Linked DNA regions of Homo sapiens: region 1 is linked to region 2. The links come from fine-mapping of genetic effects on gene expression. A gene starts in region 2. The other region holds a variant in brackets. All regions are shown on one strand. Distances are from middle to middle.

What was found. PIP is the estimated chance that this variant, and not a neighbour inherited with it, causes the effect.
Region 1: its variant is fine-mapped to the expression of STEAP1B-AS1 in neural progenitor cells (Aygun 2021, PIP 0.90).

What each region holds. Positions count from the first base shown.
Region 1 is chr7:22,586,443-22,594,781 of GRCh38, reverse strand. No RefSeq gene overlaps it. Among named protein-coding and RNA genes, the nearest start is that of STEAP1B-AS1, 27 kb to the right of the region's middle. The variant G/A (reference allele first, on the strand shown) is at 5,116.
Region 2 is chr7:22,559,979-22,568,317 of GRCh38, reverse strand. It overlaps STEAP1B-AS1 (STEAP1B antisense RNA 1), which reads right to left and starts at 4,981. Exons shown (of 4, transcript NR_038393.1): 1 at 4,888-4,981; 2 at 3,166-3,352. RefSeq lists an enhancer at 4,455-4,956.

The DNA.
Region 1 (8,339 bases), 26 kb before region 2:
GCTCACTGCAGCTTCCACCTCCCAGGCTCAAGTGATCCTTCTGCCTCAACCTTCCAAGTAGCGAGGATCACAGGCATGCAACACCATGCCCAGCTATTTTTTAAAAAGTTGTTATAGAGATGGGATCTGGCCACATCGCCATCACCCAAATAGTCATTTTATCCCTACTTTCTCCTTTAACTCTAATGAAGTGGTTCTCAAACTTTGCCGTTTGGAATCACCTGGGGAGCTTTTAAAAATCCCAGTGCACAGGTTGTACCCCTTACCAACTAAATCAGAATGTTCAAGGATGGGAACCAGACATCAGTATTTTGTGAAGCTCTTCAACAAAGTTTGGAACCACCACTGTAGTGTTTCTGGTTCATGCTTATTCTTAGGGAGGACCTCAGTGTTGCAAGTTGAGACCACCTGCATCGGTGAACAGAGCTTACCTCTCAGAACTAAGCACTATGACCATCTCTGTCAACATGACAACTATTCTTTCCAGGAAATTATTGTCTGTAAATCAGTAAGTAACTTCCCTATTTGTTTTTGGCTGGGCAAATAGTTTGCTCACCTGGGAAAACAGCTGTCTTCTCTGGACAATAGATTGTTTACCTTGGCAAACAGTTCGCTTGTCAAACCACTGTCTGCTTATCCAAAACTTGATTTTTCACCTTGCCCTGTCCACCAAGACTAAACAATCATGTCATGAATTTTGTTGATTCCCAATCAGATCCCCATTTAAAATATTCACCTTGAGAAATCCAAATCAAAACCACAATGAGATACCATCTCATACCAGTCAGAATGGCAATTATTAAAAAGTCAAGAAACAACAGATGCTGGTGAGGCTGTGGAGACATAGGAATGCTTTTACATTGTTGATGGAAATGTAAATTAGTTCAACTATTGTGGAAGACAGTGTGGCAATTCCTCAAGGATCTACAACCAGAAATACCATTTGACCCAGCAATCCCATTATTGGGTATATAGCCAAAGGAATATAAATCATTCTATTATAAAGATACATGCACATACATGTTTATTGCAGCACTATTCACAATAACAAAGACATGGAACTGACCCAAATGCCCATAATGATAGACTGGATAAAGAAAATGTGGTACATATACACCATGGAATACTACGCAGCTACAAAAAGGAATGTGGTATCATGTCCTTTGCAGGGACATGGATGAGACTGGAAGCCATCATCCTCAGCAAACTAACACAGGAACAGAAAACCAAACACCACATGTTCTCACTCATAAGTGGGAGTTGAACAATGAGAACACATGGACACAGGGAATGGAATAACACATACTGGGACCTGTCAGGGGGTGAGTGAGGGGAGGGAGAGCATCAGGACAAGTGGCTAATGCATGTGGGGCTTAAAGCCTAGGTGACAGGTTGATAGGTGCAGCAAACCACCATGGCACACGTATGTAACAAACCAGCATGTTCTGCACATGTATTCCAGAACTTAAAGTAAAAAAAAAAAAAAAAAAAAAAAAAAAATTTACAAGACATAGGAAAAAAAAAGATTTGCCTTAAACCACTTGAACCCAGACCCACAAATCCCTGTAAATATCTACCCCTTAGTTTTGCTTGGTTCTAAGGGTTTTCTATGGTCATTTGGGGAGCTGGCGTTTGACAGTGTAACTTCACTGACCTCATTTTACAACTTTAGGCTAGGATTCTGACCTCAGTCATATGAATCCCATCCTTTCCTAAAAATCTGGATCCCTCAGCCACTCTTCCCTTTGAAACATCCTCTCTCTTCTGATTCTTTTTCTCCTATCATCCTGTGTACTGAGATTTGCCCACATTGACATGATCTTCATTTGAACCTGGTGGTTCTTTTCACTACAGGGCAACATTCTTTCCTCTACAGGGCAACATTCTTTCCTATCCAAATACTTGAATACATCAGGCACCACCACTGCCTCACCTTCCTGGGCAGCCACATCTCTCCTGGCTTTCTTCTCACTCATCACATGTCTAAACCTTTTCTCCTACATCTTGCTAATGACCTCTTTATTGCCATATTTAATAGACTTTCATCAGAGTTTGATGACTCTATCAGGATGTGGCACTGTTATTTCGTCTCTCTCTCGTTTTTTTTGTTTTTGTTTTTGTCTCCCATGACATGTCACTTTCCTAGTGTCACTACCTCACTCTCATTCTCTCACTTCTCTCTCTCCTTCTTACCTTTTCTCATTCCTCTTCCCTGCCCTACTTACCAACTGTGAGTACCCTCCAATACTGCAGTCTGCTTACATACCTTCCTTGAAGGCATTTATTTTCATGGCTTCAACCCACACCTCGAGAACAACATCCACGTCAGTAAATCAAGCACAGGAGATAGCAGACACTTCACAGACAAACACCCCTGGATTCATTCATCACGTAGCTGATGAGGATGAGCACATCATTTCCAGGGAATGTCTCATAGGACTAGATGGAATTGCCAGCGGAATCTGCATCTGGATGTGAGAAGGGTAGGACTACCCAACAGTGGCTCCATAACCTAGAGCAGGGCCTGCCCCCATGATACCTGGTACATTCCCATGACTGTCAATCCATTCCAGCAGTACTGGCTGCAGGACACCAACCTCAGATCTTTGGCTGACACTCAACATAACTGGAATAGAGTTTATAAAAAGAAATGGGAAATGCCCTCTTTTTTTTTTTTTTTTTTTTTTTGAGATAGAGTCTTGCTCAGTCACCCAGGTTGGAGCACGGTGGCACAATCTCAGCTCACTGCAACCTCTGCCTCCCAGGTTCAAACGATTCTCCCTGCCTCAGCCTCCCGAGTAGCTGGGATTACAGGCGCCTACCACCACACCTGGCTAATTTTTGTATTTTTTAGTAGAGACAGGGTTTCACCATGTTGACCAGGCTGGTCTTGAACTCCTGATCTCAAGTGATCCACCCACCTTGGCCTCCCAAAGTGCTGGGATTACAGGTGTGAGCCACTGCACCTGGCCAAAATGCCCTCTTTAAAAAAAATTTTTTTTTTAATTTTTGCGGGTACATAGTAGATATATGTATATTTATGGGATACATTAGATGTTTTGATACAGGCATGCAGTATGTAAAATCACATCATTGAAAGGAAATGCCCTCTTGAGAAGAGAGAGGGTAACATGAGTGGTCGGGAAACATGAGTGATCTTTTGTTGTAGCAGGGACACAGTGACTTTCTTGCCCTGAGGTAGTCATATCATAGGAACTGACTTAGAGATGGAAGAAGAATCCTCAGAGGACATGTTCATGAATTACCCCTGAAATAGTTTTGGAGACATTCATAACTGCCCTTGGGCAAGTCATATTGATGTTTCATCCACCCATCCAGTAATCATTGTTCAACAAATATGTTGACAGTAACTTTTTAGCAGGCATGTACTAAATGTTGGTGATACAACATCAATAAATGTGTCCCCTGCCTCCCAAGAGCTTGCACTCTGGCACTCACACAACCACATGTTAGACATGTGCAGAACCTAGAGTTAGACAGACCGGAGAGAGAGATAGAATCAGATGGATTTGCTGGCAGAATCGGCATCCGGATGTGAGCAGTGTAGAACTGCCCAACAGTGGATCCATAACCTGGAGTGGAGACTGTTCCGTGATACCTGGTACAAAAAGGTATTGTTAGTTATAATAGCATTTAATGTTTCACAAAGTGTTTTCATATTCATTCTCTCATTTAACATTCATAACAGCCTAATAAGACAGTCAGATAAAATAGTGTTGACTTAATTTTACAGAAGAGGGTATCAAGGCATAAAGAAGTCATGTGCAAAATCATGTGTCCAGCATATGGCTGAGAACTGAGCAGGAACCCAGGTGACCAGGTGGAATGTTCTGCTTTTTCTATTACCTCAGGCTGACTTCCAACCTCGGGTTCCTCATCCATATAAGGAACGTGCTAGGCTGGTGGTTTTTCTTTTCTTTTTCCAATAGTTGCTTTAACTATAAAAATCTGACTCTATAACAAGTTCCCTTCTCCAGGGACTGTGGAGGGACAGATAAACCAAAAACTAACAACATTGTTCCCCTTCCTACTGCACAGGATTGTTGTAAAGATTACATTATACAATCCACTAATCCATTGAAAACACTTTGTGATTCAATAAACTAGATGCAATCTTAGGACTTTGTGTTTATCACTTTATTAAAGGCACTTCTCCAGGTTCTCAGTAGTTTTCCAAGTACCTGCCTCTCCCAGGAGACTACAAGGGCAGAACATGTTATACCTCATCATTAACAATCATATTATCCACATGAATTTTTGAGAAAACAGTGAATAAAATGAGGTTTAGAAAGGGAGGTCACTAGATCCCTGTGCTGTGTTCCTTTTACCTCAATGCACATTTTTGTGTTTCTCAAAGTACCTAGCTCAGTACGTTGGTGGAAATTCATAGTGGAAGTTCAACAACTATTTATAAGATGGGGTTGATGGCGGAGGAGAGGGAGAATGAGGAGGCAGGAGGAGGAAGAAGAAAGAGAAAAAAAGAAGGAAAAGCATCAGAATTCATAAAAATGCTTTTATCTCCGTAGATGTGAGTGCCAAGACTTCATTTGTCTTGGCATCCTCATATTTTCTCAGTATCCCAAATAAGCATGCCAGTAGAGCAGGTCTGCCATGGGAGAGGGTGCCTAGGAGTTCTCATGACGACATTGTGTTCCAGAAAATCACAGCAGCAGCGGCAGCGACAGCAATAGCTGCCCCCACATTCCTCTGGAAAGGCTGGAGCTTTGCTTTGTGTTGTTTTAGGCTTCCTTCCCCAGGAAGCATTATTGGAAGGAAACACTCCACCCCGACCCTCCCAGCTCCCAGTGCTGGCTTGTGGTCAGTAAAGTAAATGTAATTTTTGCCTCTTAAGAAATGTGGGACAAGAGACTGCATGGAGCACTGCCAACGTGACAGTGGAGGTGCGTCAGTGGGCTCGGTGACAGGTGGCAGAGGCCAAGGGTCTGGGGAGTCACTTACAGTCACGGAGGCTTTCTCTCCCAGCCATTGTCCATTGATGGGAATGAGGTAGTGGGCAGCCAAGCCACACAACGGGAGCCTGGAGAAAGAAGTCTAGGGCAATTTGCACATGAATTTCCTTCTTTAAATAGCTAC[G/A]CAATAAGTCAATATCCCTAGGAAGAAGTTGCTTATTGGCTGCCTTATTCTTTTTTTTTTTTTAAGCGAGTCTCTTAAAGACACTTATTTTGGCCTTACATGCACTTAATCAGGCTTGTCTTATTCTTTTAATTCTGAAGTTCTACTGTTCAACAGTTAGGAAGGAACTGGCTTTGCATCTGGAAACAAGAGCAGGCACAAAGACAATGAGATAGATGGTGGGCTTGTTTTGCAGACGTGTGTTAGAGAGAGAGCACCACTCATGCATAGAAGAGAGGTTTGAAAGATTGGACATACAAAGTGGAGTCTAGGCCAGGCATGGTGGCTCACACCTGTAATCCCAGCTACTCTGGAAGCTGAGGCAAAAGGATTGCTTGAACCTGGGAGGCGGAAGTTGTAGTGAGCTGAGATTGAGCCACTGCACTCCAGCCTGGGCAACAGAGCAAGACTCCGTCTCAAGAAGAAAAGAATGATCCCAGCACTTTGGAAGGCTGAGCAGGTGGATGACCTGAGGTCAGGAGTTGAAGACCAGCCTGGCCAACATGGTGAAACATCTCTACTAAAAATACAAAAATTAGCTGGGTGTGGTGGTGCGTGCCTGTAATCCCAGCTACTCGGGAGACTGAGGCAGGAAAATTGCTTGAACCGGGAGGTGGAGGTTGCAGTGAGCTGAGATCATACCACTGTACTCCAGCCTGGGCAACAGAGTGAGACTCTGTCTAAAAAAAGAAAGAAAGAAAGAGAGAGAGAAGAAAGAAAGTAAAAATAAAATAAAGAGGTCTAGCTGGCAGCACCAGGGCCATCAGCCAATAGTGGGATTAGGGATGGCTACTACTGGAAAAAACTGCACACTGGGATTGCCTCTTGTTCAATATATGACATCTGCATTGATTCTAAATCCTCCCTACATGGAATTAGGCAATGGTGTGCTGTTAGCTTGCTCTTTGAAAAGAAAGAGAGGAAGAAAAAAGATCCTGGTCTGTAATATCAGCCAATATTTCAGTGTAAATATTCTGACTGTGGCCAGCTTCCAGCTACCAAGATTGACCTGCTCAAAAGATTCCTGAATATTTAACAACCAGCTCTCTGGGGCTGGTACCCACAGCTCCAGCATACCACTGGCTAAGATACAGATTGCTACTCACCACTTCCAGCTTTGGCTTTGCCACTATTAGATGTATGCTCTGTAGCAAGCTCTTAATTTCCTCAAACTGCAGTTCTCTTTTGAAAAATGGGAGCTGAGATGATGCAGTAACGATATTTAGAGTCTCTGCTGAGCCTACACCACTCTTCTCTGAGAACCGCATCCTTCCTGGTGCTCCCTACTGGTGCCATATTCCACCTGATTTTTCAACTTCATTTTGGAGTCTAGCAGATATCCCAACTGCTTCCAATAAATGCCCTTCTGCACTCAGGCCAGTCTGAGTGGGATTTTGTAAGTTGCAACCAGCAGCGCTCTAAGTAAGGCAGAAATGATTTCCAAGGCCTTTGTGAGTTCTGATATTGCACCATTTGTTCTCAGAGTGTGCTGCCGACCAGCAGCATCAACTTCACCTGGGACATGTTGGAAATGTCAGTTCTCAGGGAACCACCGCAGACCTATTAAATCAGAAACTCTAGGGATGGGACCCAGCAACTTGTGTTTTTACAAGCTTTCCAGGTGATTCCCATGTGTTCTCAAGCTTGAGAACTGCTGCATCACTGTTCTAAGGATGGTATGACTTATTTGAGAAAGGCATTTTCAGACTGATCCAGTTTTCTTTTCTGATTAATGAAGGCCAAAAGTTAATGTTTTACTGGTAAAAAAAATTGATTTTTATAAACGAAACATATTACTATTACAACTTGAAAGACATCAATTTCCTTTTCTCCTTCTTTCTTATTTTAGTTTCAATGGACAGAGACTGACGTTTCAAAGACTAGCCTAAAAGAATATAAGGAGAAGAAAAGTGTAGAGAATGAAAATACTGCCAATAAATAAGCGGAAATAAAAAATATGCACCAGATAATTTCAAGATAGTGAAGGCCAGAAAGAAATACAGAACAGGAAGCCCAGATGCTGTGTGGTTTTTGCATTGGAAAAGATTTCACAAAATGTGCCATTAACACATTGAGTGACTAATCATTTCTGGCATTAGGAAACCATTTAAGAGTCCACTAATGATTGATTTACATAAGTACAGTAAAAAGTGAAACAGGAAACTTTGACTTAACTTCATCCTGACATATATCAAAAGCACAGTTTTCACTGTAAGATTTGGAGAGATGTGGCTAGATAGCAATTTTCACTATAAAATAGTCTTGAACAGACCATTCGAATGGATAGAGCTTGTTGGTAAGCTGGTTGTTTGAAACTAACACTTTTTTTTGTATGGAAAATCATGCCTTTGGAGAGCAGACTGCAGACTGGACGATGGAATCCTTAATGGAAGTAAACTGGAGGGCTGGTAATTGGTAATCATGCAGGTGATTGGGAGGAGAGGGGCCCAGGAGAGGAGCTGCACTGGGTAGAGAGGGGAGAGAGGGGAGAGAGGGGAGAGAGAGAGAGAGAGAGAGAGAGAGAGACAGAGAGAGAGACAGAGAGAGAGACAGAGAGAGACAGAGAGAGAGAGACAGAGAGAGAGAGAGAGAGAGAGAAAATTGGGGAAGGACAGAGTCCTCTAGTGGGAGGAATGCAGTCTGAAAGGGGCTCCCTTTCCAGAAATGTCAACAGTATGGGGCCTGAGGGTAGAGGAAGGTTCTGCAGCTGAGTGACTGAGAAAAACAAACTGTATTTTTCACCATGCTTACACTCACACTTCACTTCTGGCTGCCAAATGTATAGGGGTTATTCTGTGTGGGAATAATTCTCCAGTTCTCTGCAGACACCAACTGGATGTCCAACTCCAGGCTGCACTGATGAATACAGAGCACAGACCCCACAAGACTGCCCCTACTCCAGTGCCAGTAGTAAGTCCCAGCTTGTGATCTGTACTCTGAATCAAGGGTTCCCATGACCCCCTTCTCAGGTTCAGTCATTTACTAGAACAGCTCACAGGGCTGGGAAACACTTAATGTTTACTGGTTTATTACAAAGGCTACAGATAAACAGTCAGATTAAGAGATACACAGGGTGAGGTCCGGAATGGTGCAGGGCACGGGAACTTCTGTCCCTGTGGAGCTGGAGTGTGTCAGCCTCCCAGCACATGGACGGATTCTTATTCACAAACCCAGAAGCTCTTTGA
Region 2 (8,339 bases):
ATATTGGTGAAGGACAGTCTCTTAAGTAAATGGTGCTGGAAAAACTGATATCCACATGCAGAAGAATGAAACTAGACCCCTGTCTCTCACCATATACACAAATCAAATCAAAGTGGATTAAAGAGTTAAATTGAAGACCTGAAACTATGAAACTACTAGAAGAAAACATTGGAAAAACTCTCTAAGACATTGGTCTGGGCACAGATTTATTGAATAAGACTCAAATGCACAGGCAACTAAAGCAAGAAATGGACAAATGGATTACAGCAAGCTAAAAACCTTCTGCAAAGCAAAGGAAACAATCAATGGAGTCAAGATATAACCTACAGAACATAAGAAAATATTTGCAAACTATCCAATTGACAAGGGATTAATAACTAGAATATCTAAGGAACTCAAACAACTCAATAACAACAAAAAATCCAATTTACGAATAGGCAAAAGATCTGAATAGACATATCTCAAAAGAAGACATGCAAATGGCCAAGAAGTATGTGGAAAAATCCTTAACATCACTAATCATCAGGGAAATACAAATCAAAACCACAATGAGATATCATCTTACACCAATTAAAATGGCTGTTATCAAAAAGACAGAAAGTAACAGATGCTGATGAGGATGAAGAGAAACGGAGCCCTTGTATACTGTTGGTGGGAATGGAAATTAGTACAACCACTATGGAGAACAGTATGGAGGTTTCTCAAAAAACTAAAAACAGAGTTACTATATGATCCAGGAATCCCACTGCTGGGTATATATCCAAAAGAAGGGAAGTCAGTATATCAAAGAGATATTTGCATTCCCATGTTTATTGCAGCACTGTTCACAATAGCCAAGATATGGAATCAACCTACAAGTTCATCAATGAATGAATAGGCAAAGAAAATGTGGCAGATATATATAATGGAATATTATTCAGCCATAAAAAATGAAATCCTGTCATTTGCAGCAATGTCAATGGAATTGGAGGACACTGTTAAGTGAAATAAGCCAGGTGCAGTGAGACAAATATCACATTATCGCTTATATTGTGGGAGCAAAACCCTTGATCTTATGGAGGTAGAGAGTAGAATGATGGTTATCAGGGGCTGGGAATGGTAGTGGGGAGGGGAGATAAGGAGAGATTAGTTAGTGGGTACAAAAATATAGTTAGATGGAAGGAGTAAGACCTGGTGTTTGGTGTCACAATAGGATGACTATAGTTAACAATAATTTATTGTATATTTCAAAATAACGAGAAGAGTGGCATTGGAATGCTCTTAAGACAAGCAAATGATAAATGCTTGAGGTGCTGGATACCTCAGCCATACACTGTATGGTTGTATCAAATTATCCCATGTACCTCAGAAATCTGTACAACTATTTTGTATTCATGAAAATAAAAATTAAGTTACTTCAAAAAAAAAAAGGTCGGCAGGATGCTAGTGGCCTCCCCCAGGGGGAATCCTGGGATGGTGTTTTCCCTTATTAAGATTCCACAGGGACAGGCACACCCCGAGTGAAAGCCACATCTAAGCCTTACTCAGGGTCCAGGTGTCAGTCAGACGAAACAGCAAGGTGTTTGTGTAGTGTTCATTCATTCAGTAAATATTTATCAACTGCCTACCGTGTGCCTAGAAACTGTTCTAGTCCTTTGGGATACATAGTGAACAAAATGGAAAAACAAAACACCTTTCTCTCATGGAGTTTACATTCTTGTGAGTGAGACAGGCAATAAATAGTAATCATTATAAATAAGTAAATTACCAAGTATGTTAGAAGGTGATAACCTTCTATATAGAGTTATGAGTTCATATAGAAGGCAAGGAATTGAGAGTACTAGCTTGGGGATCTAGGGCTTCCTCATTCTGGGGTCTGATTCCTGGAGGTGACTAGGCAGGGCTCAGCGGGCAGGTGATATTTGACCAAAGTCCTGAGGAGGTGGCAATAGCCAGCGCCAAGGTCCTAAGGTCGGGGGAGGTGCCTGGTGTGTCTGGGGAACAGCCAGGTGGCCAGCGTGGCTGGAGCAGTTAGAAGGAGGAGAGAAGTAGGAGGTGAGGTCAGAGGGAAAGTGCCTGGTAGTGCCTTTAGACCATTGTGGAGACTTTGGCTTTTACTTTGAGTGAAATGAGGAGAGCAATAGTAATGGAGGGATTGAGAAAGAGTCTGGTTCTGGATATATTTTGAAGCCAGCAGATGTCCCAATAGATGATAGCCTGGGTATTAGAGGAGGGGTACCAAGGTCAAAGACTACTCCATGGTGTTTGGCTGGAGCACCTGGGAGGATGGGGATGCTGTTCCCTGCATCTGAGACAGAATACTGAGACAGAAAGGTTCCTGTGGAAACGTTTGGGGGAAGACCCAGCCCTTCACATTAGACCTAGGAAGTTAGGGGAGGCTGTTGGACAGGAAGATGGAGAGGATGCATCGGGACTTGGAAATGTGGGTAGGGGTGCAGAAGAGAGGTCTGGGCAGGGTTCCTCAGAGGCAGGCGCTATTGAAAGCCAAGAGACTGAATGAAGTCACCAAGGGAGGAAGAGAAAGAAGGGGGTGGAGGACTGCACACTGGCCCTTCAGTGTGAAGATGCTGGGAAGGGGCAGCCGTGGAGACTGGGAAGCAGCAGCCACTGCTAGAGGAGGAGAGAGCAGGGTGTGAGCAAGTGGAGAACAGGTGTAGACAGGCAGAGGAGAAACAGCTTGGTCTGTCTGCTGCCCACAGTCACAAGCACAGGCACACCCCAGGGGAAAGTTGCCTCTGTGCCTTACTCAGGCCAGATAAAACAGTTTTAAGGAAGAGAAACAGCTTCTTTTTTCCTGCCATGAGGAGAGGGGGGGGGAAAAAAAAAAAAAAGACTGCCTCAGCAATTTGCATAATTGGGCCTTGTGAGAAAGATCCCTGTGAGTCCAGTACTGAAGGGAGTTGATTTTAGCCATAGCAATTAGTCATTCTCCCACTTCATGAGCTGTCTGTGTGTGGTTTCTAAACAGGCAGCATTTGTTTAACAAAATAATCAGCATCTCCATTTCCTCCGAATCATCCTTGAATCTAAAGATCATTTGAAAAAATGCTAGGCCATGCTATGGTGGCACTCCTAGGGGTGTCTTATTTCCATTTTCCTAATTTCAGAGGGAAAAAAGTAGATAGAGCCTTGATGCACAAATTTGAAAATAAAACCAACATTCACCTGTATGCACTGGCCCCTTCCTGTGCACCCTCCAGCCCTGTGGTCCTTAGAGCTGCTTCCTACAATATTCATGACTTAGAACAGCCCATTCTTAAAGCTGGTCCAACATTCTTCCATCGGCCTGTCCACACTCTCTGGTTTGCGCTGGATCCCCAAGGAAATGGGTTTGGCTGCCTCAGGCTGTGGTCTAGGGACAAAGGAAAACCAAAGTCTGAGTTCTGGGTAGATGTTGTCAAGAGACAGGAAACCACTCATGGCTTAATTCCAGGAGCCTGCAAGGTCAGGCAGTGGGTGAGTGCCTGTGAGCAGAGCCTGGAGAGATCTCTGAGGTAGCAGTGCCCTGGGAGTCTGAGCCTTGGAGGTGCTGAGTCTTTGGATGAGAGGGAACTGACAGAAGCTCCGGTCCATTCAGTCATTCAATATTCATCTACCCAATGACTCCCATGGCTCACGTCCTTTGCTTCTTCATGAATTAATAATGTTTATTTTATGATGTCGTAGAAACCAGACATAGCCTAAGCCTGAGAAGTCTGGGAATGGTAGATGGTATAGTGTTGGGGAAACCGCACTTGCTGTTGAGTCAGGCTGGCTTGGGTTCAAATCCTGGCCTGGCCAGTTTTACCTTAAAGGGTAGCTTAGCCTCCCTGGGTCCCTGTAGTTCCCTCCAAAGGGGCCATTATGATGCGTTCCTTGAGCAGCTGTTGTGAAGATCACGATGATACATGGAAAACACCTTATACAGTGCTGCTCACGTAGTAAGGACTCCATATATTGTAATGGTTATCATTTTTTGTTTGTCGTAGCAAGGTGTGGGTGAACTAAGGAGCCTAAATGAGACTTCCCATGCAGAGGCTGAGAAAATGAAAGGTTACTGCTCTAGAAGAGAGGTGGGGAGGGTGCCACAGGCAGGCTACTGTTCGCCCTATTTTGCCTTGGGCAGACATTGATGCCCTGTCCCCACAGTCCTTTCACTCCCGCTGGGAGATGGCTTCCAAGGTGTGGCTCCAGGCCAAGGCCAATTACTGGGGTTTGCCTGTGGGCTGTAACTTCTTTACCACAGTCACCCTGAGCAGAAAGCCAAGCGAGTAATTTCGGAGCGCTTGTGTGCTGACACCCTTTTTGATGAGGTGAAAGGATCTGACTCAAAGCTAGCCCTCGACAGTGAAAATTAAGAAGTGTTTCTAAGCCTGAGAGGCAGCTTTGAGCTGTGTCCTCAGTCAGGAACGCATGTTGAAAAGAAGTTTGAAAGGCTCTGAACTCTTCTAGATGGTCCTGAATAGACACTCCCCACAGTCCACGTCCCGGGAAGGGGTAGACACAGCTATGAGCAGCCTAGCTTGCCGAAGCAGCAGGGCTTCTGTGCCTGTGCACCTCTGTCATGCCTGGAATGTCCCTGGAAGAGGGGACTTGCCCTGCTCAGCTCCCTCCAGGGAAGTTACCTGCTTCTCTGTCTCCTGCCATCACCCGAAGCCCAGCTCTGCCCTGGCTTAGGAGACAGGAAGGGAGCCCAGTCCTCAGTTTCCTTCTCCAACTGCAGTTCAGCCTGTCAGAGCTGGCAGTGAGAACCTGGGAAGTGTATTTTCTGCCTCTTCCCAAGGGGAAGCCCGTGGTTTTAGTGCTCAGCAGAGATCCCCATAGGCTAAAAAGTCTTAGCACCGATGATGTTCACCCCCAGGTGCAGGATACTGAAAATAGATAATTAATAATAAACAAGTACTCTACCTGACAGCAAGTGGGTAAGGGGTGACAGCCAGCGGAGCGTTGGTTTCCGATTCCTTCCTAATGTGGTTGCTGCTGGGCGGCTCTGCTGCTCGTTAGACAATCAGAGCTGCTGCCCTGCTAGTGTACGGTGGGGGGTGGGGAGCACAGCCATGGCGTGTATTTGCTGATAACTCAGCCCAACTCAGGTCCTTTTTAAATGACACTTCCTGATGCACGACCTTTTTCCCTGCAACACCTCTCCTTCAAAGACCCAGAAAACAAACACTGAGAATGAAGCCAGCCTGCTGCTTCCTGACCCTGGATGGATCCTTCCATATTCCAATATCACAGTCACGTCTGCAAACATCCATTCTATTAAAGCAGTATGCAGATGTAGGTCAGAATACAGAGCAGCAGATGTGTAGAACAAAGAAGTCTAGGGATCTAATATACAATATGAAGACTAAAAGAAAAAAAGAGCAGCATACATTTTGTGAGACATACTTAGAAAAGCAGCAAACCCGGGAAAATGAAGTAGGAGGCACAGTGGTTTCACTTGATCAAATCAGCTTCTGAAGCTGTATTGTGAGGGGGCAGGGAAGGTTGGAACCCTCAAGCATTATTTGGGGGAGTTCACAGGTTTTAAATAATTCCATAAGACTGATAACACTTTAATGAGTCCCTAACCAAGAATGAGATTGTTGTGGATTCACTGAATAATCATGGAAAATAGACAATTTCTATGAAAAAAAGTGAGCATGCTATGGGAGTTGATAAGGTAACAATGGACACAGCGATACCGTGTAAAGGCTCAGGTTTTTTCTCCTAGCATTTTGGATGCCTCACCTACATGTAACTGATAATAATCTGCTTCTTTGTACCAAGAACCACATGCAGCCTCTTCCATACACTAGCTCATTGATTCCCAATAACAATCGTACACAGGATGTATTATTTTCCCCTTCTTCAGAGGGCAGAACAGGATCAGAGAAGTTTAGAAACTGCCCTCAGTCACCCAGTAGGGAATGGAGCTCAACTGTGAACCCTGGAACTCCTGACTCTGAAATCTGCTTTTTGACTGGCTGACCACACAGCTTCCCAATGACAGCAGACAGGAGAGAGAGGAGGGAGGGAGGGAGGGAGGGAGGGAGAAAGGGAGAGAGAGAGAGAAGAAGAAGAAGAAGGAGGAGGAGGAGGGGGAGGAGGAAGAGGAGGAGGAGGGGGAGGAAGAGGAGGCGGAAGGGGAAAAGAGAACAGAAGGGAAGAGGGAAGAAAGAAACAGAAAGAGAGAACGAGTGCGCCCAAGCTGGAGCCAACAACTCTCCATACCCTCGGGTCTCCCTTCACAGGGCCTCTTCTTTCTGTGGCTCTGTGGTTCTCTGTCTTAGGATGCATTCTCACAATCACCTGGAGGGCTGGTCACAGTCCAGATTGCTAACTCCACCCCTAGATAGAGTTTCTGATCTCTTAAGTCTGCACTGGAGCCTGAGAATTTGAATTTCTTAGCTGTTCCCAGATATTGCAGGTCTGGGGACTCCACTGAGGACCACAGCTAAGTATAAACCTGCCTTTCTTGGAGCACAGTACTAGTACTGCAGAGAAGCTGCTTTAACATACTCTTTCTTATTCTTATGTATAAATTGACAACAAACAAACAAATATGGTTTTGTTTAACAATGAACCATCAAGCTTTCCTTTGTTGTAAAAGTAGAGATTTCACCTACTGCACAGGTTCAGTAAGCCCCGCGGCGGGCGGGGGGACTCCACATACCAGCAACCGTCTGCAGGAACCACGTTTTTTTCCTATGTGAAATGCCCTCTGAGAGCCGGCAAGTGACTAACATCCAGTCTGTCTCAGAACTCAACCTATTTGGAGAGTGGGTGTTCACAGCCAGCATGTGCTCAAGTTGGAACTCTCCCATGGATAAACTGTTATTAAAGCACTGCAGCGGCTGCAGGCTCAAGGACGTTTCTCTTCCAGGCCTGGCTGCCAGGATGTGAGGCCCGGGTGGAGGAATGCGCTTAGAATTCCATGCGGTCAAGAATTCTTCCCTTGAGCCCTGTTAGGCTCTGCTTCTCCGATTTCCACTTTCCCCTCCATTCTTGCCAAAGCTATTTACATCCTCTAACCAATGCTGTCTAATAGAAATATATTGTGAGCCACATATATAATTTAATATTTTTAGTAGTCACATTAAAAACATGAAAAGAAGCAGGTGAAATTAATTTTAAGAATATCTTTTATTTAACGTAATATATTTAAAAAATCATTTCAACATGTAATTAGTATAAAAAGCTAGGAATAAAATATTTTACATTATTTTTCCCTTATGGAGTCTGCGGAATCTGGTGTTATTTAACACTGACAGCACATCTCAGTGCAGAACAGCAATATTTCAAGTGTCCAGTAGCCACATGTGGCCGGCAGCTACCATATGGGAGAGTGTAGCTCTTTCTGCATTTAACTGCTTTGCGAGTTCAGAACCTAGAAAGAACCACTATGTGAAAGGCAGAGACAGCCAAATATTCATAGCTAAGCGCTGGTGTTATGTTTATTAAACATACAGATGCAGGTAGCCACAACAGGGCTGTGCCTCAGAATCAGCTGGAACACCTGTTAAGATAACTGCGGCCGGTGTGGTGGCTCACGCCTGTAATCCCAGCACTTTGGGAGGCCAAGTTGGGCAGATCACTTGAGATCAGGAGTTCGAGACCAGCCTGGCTAACATGGTGAAACCTCGTCTCTACTAAAAATACAAAAATTAGCTGGGTGGGGTGGCGTGAACCTGTAATCCCAGCTACTCAGGAGGCTGAAGCAAGAGAATCGCTTGAACTTGAAAGGTGGAGGTTGCAGTGAGCTGAGATCGCACCACTGCACTCCGGCCTGGGTGATAGAGCGAGACTCCGTCTCAAAAAAAGAAAAAAAAAAAAAAAAGAAGAAGATAACTGCCTGTACCTAATCGTATACCTACTTAATCAGAATGGGCTATGAGAGAGGGAATCTGCATTTTTAATAAGCACGTCGGGTAATTTTGCTGCATCCAGCCTAGGACTTTCCACAGAAGAACATTTCTGAATCACCAGACAGAGAAGTATGAAATCCCACCTGGGGTGCCAGGCTAAAGGAGAGAGGCCGCACAGCATCCAGCTCCTCTTCCTGTCTGCCATGCAGTCTAGTTTTACTCATACTTGAAACCTGATTTGCATGGATATGTGTTCTTAACAGAGAAACATTTTGATCATTTGTCAGGTTTAGATTACCATCCAATTTATAGAATAAATGCAGTTCACGTGGCTTTCCCATCTTGCTTTTGTGATTGAATTTAAAGTTTACGGGCCCCCTGTTTATATAGAGATTTGTATGCCGGTGCTGCCACCTTGTGCTGGAAGAGACTGTTGACACAGGTTGGAATAAACGTGGACTTGCCCTCTGCTGGTAAAGAGGTTAGAAACCCAGTGTATCCCCAGGGTTC